Homo sapiens: one gene and its partners. The protein of the gene in region 3 purifies or fractionates together with the protein of the main gene of each other region. This does not show direct contact. Each region holds a gene or a part of one and is shown on either strand. Other genes may lie near its edges.

Region 1 (3,571 bases), on a different chromosome or scaffold from region 3:
TTTTTTAAAACTTCTTTGGATGTAAACAGAGCAACTGCTGTTTGGTCAAGTCTTGTTGCCTTCTAGGTAAAGGGACCATATGAGGGTCTAAGAGGGCACCAGCATGCCGGTGGTCCCATAGAACATACCTCGTCACAGCCAGCACATCGGGGTTTCTCGCTGTCACAGTAATGTCTGCCACAGTATAGCTTCTCATTCTTCCAAAAATAAATCATGTCAACCAGGAGTTCATGGCAGGTGCTGCAGACAAAACAAGCTGGGTGCCACAGTTTATCATAGCCAGCCCTTTCGGCATAGATGGCTGGGTCACCTTCTTTCATACTCAGTTTGCAGCAATAGCAGGACTGAAAGGGAAGCCATCCAGAACAACCTAGTCATTAGAAGACTGCCATTTCTTTTCTTTCTTTCTTTTTTTTTTTTTGAGACTGAGTCTCACTCTGTCGCCCAGGCTGGAGTCCAGTGGTGCTATCTCGGCTCATTGCAAGCTCCGCCTCCTGGGTTCACGCCGTTCTCCTGCCTCAGCCTCCCGAGTAGCTGGGACTACAGGCGCCTGCCACCACGCCCGGCTAATTTTTTTGTATTTTTAGTAGAGACGGGGTTTCACCGTGTTAGCCAGGATGGTCTCAATCTCCTGACCTCGTGATTCACCCGCCTCAGCCTCCCAAAGTGCTGGGATTACAGGCGTGAGCCACTGTGCCCAGCTAAGACTGCCATTTCTTATCATTGACTTCAGTAGAAATTCAGAGAAACAACTTTGAAGAGACATAATTTCTACTGAAATTACAAATTTGTCGATGTAGATAATAACGTATTAATAATTCTGTGAAATGGAATCTCAGCTTTCTCCCGGCTATTCAAATCTACTTCATTCACCCTGTGTGTAACAGGCATTATTTCCTGAATTAAGGTCACTTATGGAAAAAGGAAAATAGTAATTTTCAGGTCAATTTTAAGTAGATTCTCTAAAACTATCACCTCAGGGCTTATTAGTGCTCTTTTTTCAGGACTAAGCCTTATTGGTTGGTGTGCTAACTGGAGCTATGAGGAATATATTACAGCAGGTTTAGTTCTTATGTCTGTTCATCTGTGTCATAATTGCCTCCTACCATCAAGTCATTAGCAAAATACTTCAATTTCTCCCTTTAGAAGAGACTTAAAAAAAAGCTTCACTATATATCCACAAAAATTAAATTTAAGTTTGAATTTTAGGCACGTTCTCACAAGCAAAACTGAATTAACCTAAGCATATATTCCTATTTATGGGCAGCAGAGATAAGCAATTAATACCAACATTATGATTAGAAACAGACTATAGAATAATAATGCTGTCTTTGATCAGCATGCCAATACCAACTACTGTCTGTACATAAAACTCACTATCCACAATTATCCTTGATAATAAATACATAGAAAATTTGGCTTTAGACAGAAGTTTCAAACACGATGACCCTCTGTGGGAAGTCTAAACTGAATCTAAATCCTATTTATTCCCCATACTTATTCCCTTTTGGAAACTCAGAGGAATAGTCCCCAAAAAAGTTCAAAGTAAGGGAAAAAAATTCTGTAAAGTATACAAATCAGGCTAACAGTGTGACCACTCTACTTACATATTGAGTTCTTTTGTGCTCAGCAGATTTGTCCTCCATGGCCCCCACTGCTGCTGGGGTGCTTCTATCCCCTCCAGGAATGTTCATTTGTTTGGGGCCTTGGGCATCCATCTCACAGGGAAGTTTGACATCTCCTACTCCCAGAGCTTCGCTCTTATATTTCTTCACAAACTGCTCCATCTCCTTCACCTCTCTGGGAGACAACTCATGGCACTTTGAAGGGTCCTGGTCATGTGCAGGGAGCTGCTTTGCCAGCTGCTTCTTCCGGTACTGTGCCCCCTCTGAGCCTGCTACTGGCTGCTTTTCCTTGGGTAGCATCTGCATGTACTGCCTGGCCTGAACCACAAGGAGGCCAATGTTAACTGGGATTGGCCATTAGGCAGTGTGATGTTTCATAACACACATCAGAAGCAAGTTACTTAAGAAAGAAGTGGGTTCTATCCAATAGCAGCAACTCACCCTCACAGTATATTAAGAAGTTAAAACTCAAAAACGGTACACTAAATAGATTTAGTTGGGTAAAAAGTAACACTTTCTCTCCATGAAATTATATATTTTTTCAGTTTGTAAGATCTGAGTTACTACTGTTTACTTAAGCTAAATAAACAAATGTACAATTGAAAGAAAACATAAACTTTTAGGCAGACATGTTTGGAATGGTCTGTAGGACCAGGAACATTTTTATTACATAAAAAATGATATCGCAAAATTCACTTTAATGATTTAACTAACCTTAAAAGACTTCCAAATGTTTCATTTGGTTGTTATAATAGTGGAAGGAGCTTGATATAAAACTGTGATCTTTTTGGTCTTATATAGTATTAATAAAGGAAATGAAAAAAACACAAAGATAATGTTGAATATTTTTTTCAGTTCTAAACTATGACAAAAATTCTCTTCTTTACCATCTTAAGATAAATCCTCTCAAGACTAAGCTAGAAGAGTTACTAGATTGATATAAAACATCTGATTTCCATCTAATTATTAAGAACGTTAGACCATTCCCTCAAAAAGGTAAACATATCTAGGGAGTTGGAAAAATTTTATGAAGTATCTAGTCTTACATTCAAAAGACTAGAACAGGAATCAGAAGTCAAAGTAATGAGAACCCCGGAAGAATAACAGATCTGGGATGTGTGAAGTTGATTAGGTCATCAAAGAAACTGCCCCAAATAAATACTCCAGGAACTTCAATAAAGAAACTCTCTGTTCCATATCATTTACCAATGCTTGATTCTGGACAGGAGGAGCCCACTCATAGGTAACTGTATTGATGGAGACATTCTTCTTGGCAGCAACTGGATTCGTCAATATCATAACATTGCGTTTATACATGGGAATTCCATCTGACTTTAGTTTTGCAATCAGAGTGGTATACTTGGTGTCTTCAAAAAGTTTTCCCACTTTTCGATCCTCTTCATTGCTCAAGAGGACATCATGCTCTTCTTGGCCACACTTGCAGTTACGACATATTTTTCTATAATTTTGAAAATAAGTAGAAAATGATTAATTGTACCTAATTGATATTTATGTTCATACATTTATAGTTCATAAAATACTTTTAGGCCTATTCTATATCATGGTATGCAAAGGCAAGTCCTTTTTTAGGAGGGAGAATAAGTATCCATATATTTAAGCAAGAAGGAAACAAAACACGACTTTGCTTGATAAGGCTTTTAAAAGCTAGGTTGTAAAAATTGAAAGAGGGACCCAATTAAACTGAAGAGCTTCTACAAAGCAAAAGAAACTGGCAACAGGACAAACAGACAACCTATAGAATGGAAGAAAATATTTGCAAATCCTGCAACTGACAAAGGTCTAATATTCAGAATCTATAAGGAACAATTCAACAAGCAAAAGACAACCCCATTAAAAAATGGGCAAAGGACATGAACAGATATTTCTCAAAAGAAGATATACATATGGCCAAAAAATATATGAAAACATGCTCAATATCACTAATC
Region 2 (3,571 bases), on a different chromosome or scaffold from region 3:
GAGCCAAGTGCTGGGATTTGGCAACTTAATTAAGGGTCACATTATGTGCCTACTGAAGTGAAGGACTACTGAGTATACAGCATCCCCCATAAAACATTGCTAAAAACATCTCATCTGAATCTAAAGAAGGTCTTACACCTAACTTCCAGTTTATAGGAAATATACAGAAATAACACCGTAAAAAAATACGCAGGTTCAGAATATTGGTGACTCTGTACAACTGCTGGCCTATAACATGGTTCAAAGCCTGGTAAGAAATGAGTCTCGGCAGGGTGCAGTGGCTCACACCTGTATTCCCTGCACTCTGGGAGGCCAAGGCAGAAGGATCACTTAGCTCAGCCTGGAAAACACAGACAGAGACCCTGTCTCTACCAAAAAATAAAAAAATAGCCAGGCACAGTGGCACATGCCTGTGGTCCCAGCTACTTGGGAGGCTGAGGCTGGAGGATCGCTTCAACCTCAGAGGTCAAGGCTGCGGTGAGCTGTGATCGTGCCACTGCACTCCAGGCAACAGATCAAGATTCTCTCTCTCAAAAAAAAAAAAGAAAGAAAGAAAAAGAAAAAGAAAAAGAAATGCCAAGTCCACGGCAGACATGGATGCTGACTAGACCCTGGTTTGAAACAAAGATACTTTGGGGATAACTCGGGAAATAAAAATATAGACAGGGTATTAGATAACTTAACCTAAGGAAATATTATTGTCTTAGGTGTGAAAATTCTCACTAATTATGTCAAGAACGTCCTTATCTTCAGGAGATGCATGCTTAAGTATTTAGGCTGTTATGTCATCATATCTGCAACTTTTAAACAGCTCAGCCTGACACACATCTATACAGACTAAACATGACACAATGTTCACTGCTAGTAGATTTGGAAATGTTTTACTATTGTCAAGTTTCTTCTGTATGTCTGAAAAATTTAATGATAAAAGCTGAGAGTGGGGCAGCCAGCCCTGGCCTCAGGCAGGAGAACAGACCACGACAGGGCTCTGCTGCTCAGGGGCAGCGACCCACGCTGCTGGTCTCTTAGCCTCAGCCCTTCTCTGAGATGAAGGAGTCACCCAAAACCCACACTGTCAAATGATTTCTCTAAGGCATGTAAACACTTCTCTGAATCAGGTAAGGACTGGGATATAGGAAGCAACTGCAACACAACTGGCCTTACTTTCAGCCATCGGACTGTCAGTATCCAATTATTTTCAAGGAGTTCAGGCAAAAGCAGAATGAATGTAAAACTTACAAGAAAGGGGAGAAGAGGTGATGCTTACGCTCATGTTAGAGTCACATTCTCAGGCATGACTGTCCACAGTAGTTACCAGGACAGTAGTTACGGTGGCAAAAACTGGGCCAACAGCACTGCTTGAGGCCTGAAACCAGGCCTATAATCCCATCACTGCTCATGTAAACTGCAGCGACCGTGAATGAAACTGCTTCTTACTAATCCAAGAGCTTTTTGAACAAACGCTAAGGGTTCCAACTACTCTCCAGAAACCTCCCTGTACCACTGACTAGATTCAGCCTGGAGCAATAAAAAAGGCTTCCCCAAATGAACAACAGAAGAGAAACTACACTTCAAAGGATAGGTAAGTGCAGTCTTATACTAAGAGATGACATCTCTCTTATCTCTGGCAGAAAATAAAATTTTAATAGTCAAACTGTACAACAAACCAGAAAATACTCCTGGTCTAATTCATAATGCAATGTCCTTGAAGTGGAATTCTAAAGAAAAGACTTATGCCCTCCTTTAGCTGCCTTGGATAGAAGCAGATAATAAAACCAGAGCAGACATATGGTTTTCAAAGATTTAAAGAGAGAGTGAAATGAAACTGCAAAAGACAGAGCCAAGTAAGACATGGTCCTCTGTGCCAGTTGTTCCCAAGAAGTCCAAAGACATTACTTAACCCGTCTTAACTACTTCAGATTTTCTCTCTGGAGAATTCACCTAAAACTGTAACTTATTCAATGTGAAAAGTGACAGGTTTTTTTTTTGGTTTTTTTTTTTTTTTGAGATGGAGTCTCGCTCTGTTGCCCAGGCTGGAGTGCAGTGGTGCGATCTTGGCTCACTGCAAGCTCCGCCTCCCAGGTTCACGCCATTCTCCTGCCTCAGCCTCCCGAGTAGCTGGGACTACAGGCGCCCGCCACCACGAAAAGTGACAGTATTTAAGAAACTTCCTAGGCACAGAGAAAACACTGTGAATGGTAAATATGAATTTGTCCTTTTGCAAATGTAGGGAGGCAAGTTTCCTTCCACGTGGACACATGTGAAATCTACAACTGTCATCCACCTATGTCACCAGTGTTAGATCTCAGACAGAGCCTCGTCACACTGAAGACTACGTAACAGGGGAAGTTCTACTCCTTGAAGGTCTCGGGACCCTTCTACAGCTAACAGCCCTCCTTCCCATGAGCTCCTCTCAGTCCCTTGGTTACCTGACGTTTCCTCCAGCCTTCTGTATCCTCATCCGCTCTTCATACTGAGTTGGATTATGCTCTTTGCTGAGGCTTAAGGCTGCATGTTTTTGACTCTCCTCATTATAACGACACAAGATTGCCTGGGAAGATGGAGATTGTAATAGTCATGAAATTCAGTGGGCGCAGCATCTAAAGGTACCAGTTGAAAAAAACAGTTAACAATGGAGTTTGAAGAAAACAGTTAACAATGGAGTTTCACATTCAGCCTCCTGCTGATAAACGTAAGTTCAGAGAATCAAGCAGCAAAGAAGTGTCAAAGACACAACAGTTAGGGAGAGAGTCGCCCCTGGTTTTGATATCAACTCTGGTACAAACTCTGCTGAATAACTACAGACAAGTGCTCACTCTGGCTGTTGTCACATTTGTGACATGAAAGGAAGCACTCAACAAGTATCAAGGTCCCTTTTGGCCTGGAGTCTAGAAGGCCAGAGACATGTCCATGAGCCTATGGAAGGCAAAGAGGAGGGCAAGCGTTGTGCATGCTGGCCGAGTGCCAGGTAGGCCGTCCACACCAGTGCCTCCAGGTGTTCTCGCCCCTGCCAGGTTCATTGTGTCTGTTTTACAGGAAGACACTGAGGCACGAAGAATAAGTAACTCAATAAAGTCACAGAGCAGAGCCAGGATTCAAATTTGGGTCTGACTCCTGTCTTTGTTTTTTTGCCAATTTTCCTCTTGCTATTTCTGAAGTCATGTGGTCTAAACACATGTGGGCTAAGGCCAGTCTACTAAAGGGCCACCAGAATGTAAACTCCACCAGGCAGGGGCTGTCATCTGTTATAGTCTCTGCCATACCCCTAGCACTTAGTATTTGATGAATCATCCCCCCAGAAGCATCGTGGGGAGGGGTCTAAAGATGCTGCTTAAGTGTGGACAGTCACTTGATTCCTGTGACTGCCTAGGGAGCAAGGAGGCCGGGTGAAAAAGCGGCAACGGAACGGAACACATGGTCCTGATGCAGAGGAGGCAGGGTCTGCATCCAGCTTTCCGCAGCAGCACCCTCTAGGCTTTACAGCATCCCCACGACTGTCACCAGGGGGAACAACACCCTGGGCTTTCTCCCTCAGCCAGGGACCGGGCTCGGGTGATGAATGGCACCTCAT
Region 3 (3,361 bases):
TGGGGTGTCTTTTTGTATCCTCATTGCCAAGCACAGCGCCTGACACATAATGGGCACGTTAGAGTCTTTGAAATGAATTCAAAAAACAAATGTTTGAAAGCACATTTTTAAAGACAGTAGTTCTTAATTTCTTCTGATTAAAGCTAAGGACTCTATCCCTAGAAAAATGCAGGTATCCATGCACACGAACATATCTAATATAATTTCAGGGCAATCATGGGACATCTGCTTGCTCTGCCCTTTTCATAGACCCCCCAAGAAAACCAGATGAACAAATTCCGAGGTTTCAATACATAATCATAGGGAGAAGCTGAGAAGCTTTAGAAACGTTCTCCATTGCCAATTTTTTTCTTTTCTTTTTTTTTTTTTTTACAAAAAACATGTTTCTTTCATTTACCTCATGCAGAAACTCTCAGTACACTAAGAAAGGACTCTCATGTAGAAATCTGCCCCCCGCAGGTGTAGAAATAACTTATCCACATAGTTTTAGGTTTAGTTACAAATTAGGTATTTTGCAGTTACCATAGAAAAAGGCATCTTTATAACAAAAGATAATTTTAAAGAAGGTATATTTATTTAACAAACATGTATGAACTATTCATTAACAATCCAGGACTGTGGAGGACAGGGGACAGAAACAAGCCTCGAAGAGATCACAATATGGTGGAGTGCATGCATGGCACACCTGGCTATCTGAATCAGACGTTTGCCTCTGTGTGTGTGATGAAGACAGTAGTGAGTGGAATGGACAGAGAGTAACTGTAAATTCTGTAGGGAGGAAAACGAACGTTTACTCATTCTCTAACAGTCTTTTGCTTTACTATGGTCATATACAACAGTTAATCTCCCATCCTCAGTTCCCAGATACCCACCAGAAAACCGGTAATTAACCTCTGGATAAACTTTCACTGATTACAGATGAGGAGCGAGGCAACCTTAAGCCATAAACAATATTCCTACAGTATGGGGGAGCCGCAATCATCTGAATGCCAGTTTTCAGAGCCAGCCTGTGAACGTTTCATCTGAGGGATGTTTTCCCGATGATCATCTTATCATTATCGCATCTTAAAAGCTGGAGAAGCCCTAAAAGCCGGTTTGGCACAAATGTCAACTCAAGGGAGGAATGCCCTCTGTAACACTCCTGGCAGCTACAGGCTTTCCACAGCAGCGGAATGTATTTTTAACCAACAAAAAGTATTAGAAACAGCTTCCTCGTACTGAACTAAATCCTCCTCATATTTTCCAACCGTTTCTCTAATGGAATTTAATTGTTTCCATTTGGTTTCTGAAGCAATACAGAATTAGCCTATTCTCTCTCCCATTTCCTTCAAGAATTTGAAAACAATTATCATCTGTATTTCTGAATTATCTCCAGACTGAACTTCCCTAATTCTTTTTTATTTTTCTTTTGAGAAGTATTTTCAAAGTTATCACCATCTTGTTACTGCTCCTGCAAACACTGTACTACTTGGCCAAAGTCTGCTTAAAATGTGATATCTAGAAAGGAACACAATATTCCAACAGTAATTGATCTTACACTGGAGTCCGGGGGGATTATTCTTTTGATCTAGGCACATACTTCCATCAACACATTCTTAAAAAGCCTTAGTTCTCGCCTCCCGTCCCCCTCCCCCGGTGTGCTGTACCATGAGCTGATATTGGAATTTGGCCAAATAAAACTGCCAACTCTTTTTTCCTGAATACTACTATCAAGTCAGGCTTCCCCTTCTTTTACCTGGGTAATGGAATGTGTCTAATTTCATTTTGAGCTTGTCTCCACATTGAAATATTTTTAAACATTATTATTTTTTTACTTTTGAGACAAGAGTTTCACTCTGTTGCCCAGGCTGGAATGAAGCGGCACAATGTCGGCTCACTGCAACCTCCACCTCCGGGGTTCAAATGATTCTTCTGCCTCAGCCTCCTGAGTAGCTGGGAGTACAGGCATGTGCCACAACACCTGGCTAATTTTTGTATTCTTTAGTAGAGACGGGTTTCGCCATGTTGGCCAAGCTGGTCTTGAACTCCTGAACTCAGGTGATCCACCCATCTTGGCATCCCAAAGTGCTGAGATTACAGGCGTGACCCACCTTGCCCGGCCAAAATAATTTTAGATGTTAATAACATCATCATACTTAATAATTCCAGCCCTATTATCTGTACATTTGATACCTTTTTATGGGACTTTTTTTTCATTTTTAGCCAAATGACTTGAAATTACTCCCAGTTTAACGTTAATCATCATGCAACTATCTCAGACTGTTTCAATAGCTAGTAATCCACCTGGATAACTATTATCCAGTCACATTCTCCATCTTAGCCACAAAGATATCAACAGCAATGCGTGTCTTGCTGGACGCAATGAACAAACTATTTCTAGCCAGTTTCTCTCATGACAAATGCTAGAGACATTTTATCATAGGAGTACAATTGAGGTGAGCCTCTGGGGTCTATGAAATATGCAGCTAGTACAGGTTCCAGCTCATGTGAGCAGAATAAGGGAGTCTATTTCCTGTTCACCCCTTCCCCTTGTACGTACATCGTGGACTAGATGTGTTGAACCTGTATTTTCTCAGGAAAGGGAACTACAAGGTGAATTCAACCAAATCAAAACTCAGGAATCACGGTGTGGTGTGGGGGTGTGTGCATCGCTGTGTACATTACCTCAATTTTTCAAATTTTGTTTTGTTACAGACGTACAGCATTATTGTGTTTGTTAAAAAAGGCTATTTTGGTCTAATATTTACATCTTATAACCTTTACCTTTTGCCTTGATACAGCTGATACTAGATAATCACTTAGGTGGATCTGTTTCCAGTGGGAAATTTCTCTATTAAAGGTGACTCAAAAAATAAACTTTTTGGACGTTGACTGTTTTTCGAAGAACTGAGGGTATGTATGTCTTTCCTTTTCCTTTTTTTTTTATTTTATTTTAAGACAGGGTCTCTGTCACCCAGGCTGGAGTGCAGTGGCGTGATTATGGCTCATGGCAGCCTTGACCTTCTTGGGCTCAAGCAATCCTCCCACCTCAGCCTCCCAAGTAGCTGGGACTACAGGCATGTGCCACCATCCCTAGCTAATTTTTTTAGTTTTTGTAGAGACAGGGTCTCACTGTGTTGCTCAGGCTGGTCTCAAACTCTTGAGCACAAAGGATCCTCCTGCCTCAACCTTCCAAAGTGTTAGGATTACAGGTGTGAGCCACCACATTCATTTCTTTGTTGCTTTTATTCTCACCACACATTTATAAGAGAAGGCATGTTCAATTTCAGTGGGCTATCCAATTTCAGATGGGAGACATCTAACTGTAATGTGTTGATTTGAGGGAAGAAGCTGTGGTCACTGCATCTATTCAAATAAAATG
Region 4 (3,571 bases), on a different chromosome or scaffold from region 3:
CTTCATTCGAATTTAGATTATATCATTAGTAATAAAATTTTCACAAACAAGTTAGTAGTACTTATTTATTAACAAATACATTTTGGAGAGTTCCAACAGTTTAAGGTGTCCTTCTCTTTTAAACAACTTACAAACTATATAATTATCTTTGCACTGAGGCTATAAATTTCCATTTATATAACATATTTTTCAGATAGGGAAAGTTAATATTGAATAATCAATGAGCAAGGAGAAGCAAGCTTTAAGAACTTCCCAACTCTTAGGAATCATGAAAATAATTTTTCATGATTATTTTAGTGTCCCTGAAATTATCAAATGCATCATTTCCATTAAAACATATATGAGTATAAAGGGAAAATATGAAGTTTATTCAAAAGGAGCAAAAAAGGGAGATCAAATGTATGAAAAGTTCTTTATATCCTAAAAATGAACAACAGAAAGAACAAGTTGTAATTGGTAATACAAATCAAAAGATCACTTTCCCTACCAGTTTTGAGACTGCAAATATTTTAAAAATTAGAAATAGTTTTAATATTGTATTATTGTTCTATGTATTATATATTATAGTTTGCTTCATAGCAGATGCCCCCTCCCCCTTAATTAATCTAAAACCTTAAGGATAAATAGTTCCATGTGATTCATAATTGTTGAATGAATACAACTTTTCCTAAAGTTGTTAGGTTTCATAGATTATTCCTGCCACTTCTAGGATTTTATGAATCTATACTTGTCACAGTTTTCTGAAAATAAAGACAATAATAGTAGAGAACATATATCAAGTCCTTATTTATACATATTAAAAGGCAATCTAGAAGAACAGTTAAGAGCCACTGTCTGAGTTCAAATACTGCCGCTTCACTTACTAGCTACATGACCCTGGGCGAGTTACTTCTCAGTGTCTCCATTTACTTATAAAATGGGATAAGTACCTACCTCATAAGGATTAAATAATAATTGTTTAGCTCAGTGCCTGGAACACAGTTAATGCTACGTAAGGGTTAGTTATTATTATTACTATGTGCCATGTATGAGTTTTACTTTACACACATTACTTCATTCTCATTTAACCTATTTTTCATATGAGGATATTGAGGTTTACAATGGCTAAGCAACTTGCCTTAGTGAAAAAAAGCTAGTAAGTGGAAGGGCCAATATTGAAGCCCAGGTTCTCTGATAGCTATGCCAGTGTATCCTCAAACTAGTCTCCGTGGATATATCTGTAGAGATTCACAAGTTTTTCCTCATTATTTTTAATTTAAATCATTCTAGGGAAAATTTTCAAATGAAAAACATTTTCATAGAGTAGACTTTAATTTCTGAAATCATCAAACTGGTATATGCAAATCCCTGGCATTCACGGGAATATTCTCATAGATCTAGGATTTTTTTTTTTTTCTTACAAAGCAGTCAACTCGTAAAACTTCAAACATAACATGGAGCTTTCATTCTTCAAGAATGAGAGAATAGGCCGGCTGCTATGGCTGACACCTGTAATCTCAGCACTTTGGGAGGCGAAGGTGACAGGATCGCTTGAGCCCAGGAGTTCAAGACCAGCCTGGACAACAAAGTGAGATCCTGTCTCAACAAAAAATACAAAAAATTTGCCAGATGTGGTGATGCAGATCTATAGTCCCAGCTACTCAGGAGGCTGAGCTGTGAGGATTGCTTGAGTCCTGGGAGGTTGAGGCTGCAGTAAGCCATGATCACACCACTGCAATCCAACCTGGGTGACACAGCAAGACCCTGTCTCATATTGAAAAAAAAAAAAAAAGAATGAGAGCAACAGCTATTTTTCAAAATCCTTATTCCCCATATTCATTTTAGATACCAAGTTCGGGACCTTTTGGCTAGTCTACTTTAAGAAGTAAAAATATTTTTTAAACGACAATGACATTAAAACATGTTACTTCTTTGTAACAACTGGTCTTGATTTTAAAGAAAACAACAACACATTAAAAAAACAAACATTTAAAAGTATTCCCTTAGTAAACAGTACTAGTACTCACATTCAGCACCAGTCTCTCATCTTTACTCCAATTCTGTATCTACAAGAGCCTACAAGAATTTTTCACTTGAACAACTCAAATAATAAGCCCCAAGTAAACTCATTTTCCCTAGACCACTTTTCCCCAAACAAGATCCCTCTTCCACATCTCTAATTCCTCCAATGATATTATCATTCTCTCAGTCATCCAGGCTCATGGCCAGAATAATCTTTGACTCCTATCTGTCTCTTATTCTCTATACTCAAAACCATATGTCTTTCTTCAAATGAATTTCATTCATAGGCCCAACTCCATTCCCACTTATCCACCTCCTTCAGGTGTCATCACCCTACTCCTTCCCTCCAACCCTATCACTGTCTAAACCATCACCTGTTTATCCTTCTTAAAGGACCAATTCGATCATGCTTGTCCTCTGCTTTATAACCTCCATGAATTGCCATTACTCAACCTACAGAATAAAATCCAAATGTTGAATTTAGAACTTTTGATCATGTAAGACTGATCATTTGAGAATTTACAGTGAATTCTCCCCTTTTATAAAAGTGTGTAACCACATAATATCCTGTATGTTTCTTAGCCATTTCCTATTACTGTTATTAGTGGTGTGGAGGCTTCTACAGAAATAAGATTTCTTTTATATATCCTTACCAGATACTAAGTAGATAACCAATTACCGAGTTAGATACTACCAGTTAACAGTGCATATATCCTGAGTACCTGATATGTGATCATTTATTCAACAGATATTTGCTGAATAATGAATCTGTGCTGAAGATACTAATGTGACTTCCATCTACTAAGAGATTTCCATGTGCCAGACAACACTAGTTTAGATGCATTATCTCACTTAATACAAGTCATCCTCAGATAGTATTATCAATCTCATTTTTAGTATGAGGCAATTATATCTCTAGTATAGTCTACTTTAAAAAGTAGAGCCAAAATCAGAACTGAGTAAAAAGTTTGTACTCTTTAACACTGTATTCTACTCCTATAGAAATATTACTCTAAAGAAAGGAGCTGTCATCTATTTGGCATGGTGGACACACAAATATAATACTTTGTCCTAAATACTATGAAGGATGCAATTAATGTCTTATTTGAGCACAAAATGATGGGCCAAACTCTAGGGTAAAAAGATGGAGAGTCAGAGATATCTGGAGATGACATGTTTAAGAATGAATCACAGTTACAAAATAAAGAAACATTCCCAAAAAAGGGGATAACCTGTGCAAAGGTAGAAAAGCACAAATTTCATGACTTACTCAGAAAACAGCAAACAGTTCAGTTTTCTAGAAAGTAAGTGTGATAAGGGAGACTGGTAGAAAGGGCAAGCATAGTCAGATCATGAACAGTTTAGCCAACGAGTTTAGATTTTGGCCAATAACTAAGAGAAAGCCATTGTGTAATTTTAAGCAAGAGGGAATGATCACATTTGTGCTTTAGAAACGCTGCTCTGTACTGACAAATGGACTGGAAGAGCTACAGCCTAGAAGCAGGGACACCATTTTAGGTTACTGAAAGAGTTCAGGCAAGAGACTAACCTAGAACAGTGGCGAGGGACA

What was found.
Region 1: the proteins of NLN (region 3) and TES fractionate together in Homo sapiens (co-fractionation; one large-scale study listed by BioGRID). This does not show direct contact.
Region 2: the proteins of NLN (region 3) and ILKAP fractionate together in Homo sapiens (co-fractionation; one large-scale study listed by BioGRID). This does not show direct contact.
Region 4: the proteins of NLN (region 3) and LEMD3 fractionate together in Homo sapiens (co-fractionation; one large-scale study listed by BioGRID). This does not show direct contact.

Annotation. Positions count from the first base shown.
Region 1 is NC_000007.14:116,248,533-116,252,103, reverse strand, and holds part of TES (testin), read right to left. Parts: intron 3,085-3,571; coding exon 2,832-3,084; intron 1,944-2,831; coding exon 1,608-1,943; intron 345-1,607; coding exon 129-344; intron 1-128. UniProt on the Homo sapiens protein: Scaffold protein that may play a role in cell adhesion, cell spreading and in the reorganization of the actin cytoskeleton. Plays a role in the regulation of cell proliferation. May act as a tumor suppressor. Inhibits tumor cell growth.
Region 2 is NC_000002.12:238,179,636-238,183,206, forward strand, and holds part of ILKAP (integrin-linked kinase-associated serine/threonine phosphatase 2C), read right to left. Parts: intron 2,552-3,571; coding exon 2,430-2,551; intron 1-2,429. UniProt on the Homo sapiens protein: Protein phosphatase that may play a role in regulation of cell cycle progression via dephosphorylation of its substrates whose appropriate phosphorylation states might be crucial for cell proliferation.
Region 3 is NC_000005.10:65,826,475-65,829,835, reverse strand, and holds the end of NLN (neurolysin, mitochondrial), read right to left. Parts: 3' UTR 553-3,361; downstream 1-552. UniProt on the Homo sapiens protein: Hydrolyzes oligopeptides such as neurotensin, bradykinin and dynorphin A. Acts as a regulator of cannabinoid signaling pathway by mediating degradation of hemopressin, an antagonist peptide of the cannabinoid receptor CNR1.
Region 4 is NC_000012.12:65,176,041-65,179,611, reverse strand, and holds part of LEMD3 (inner nuclear membrane protein Man1), read right to left. Parts: intron 1-3,571.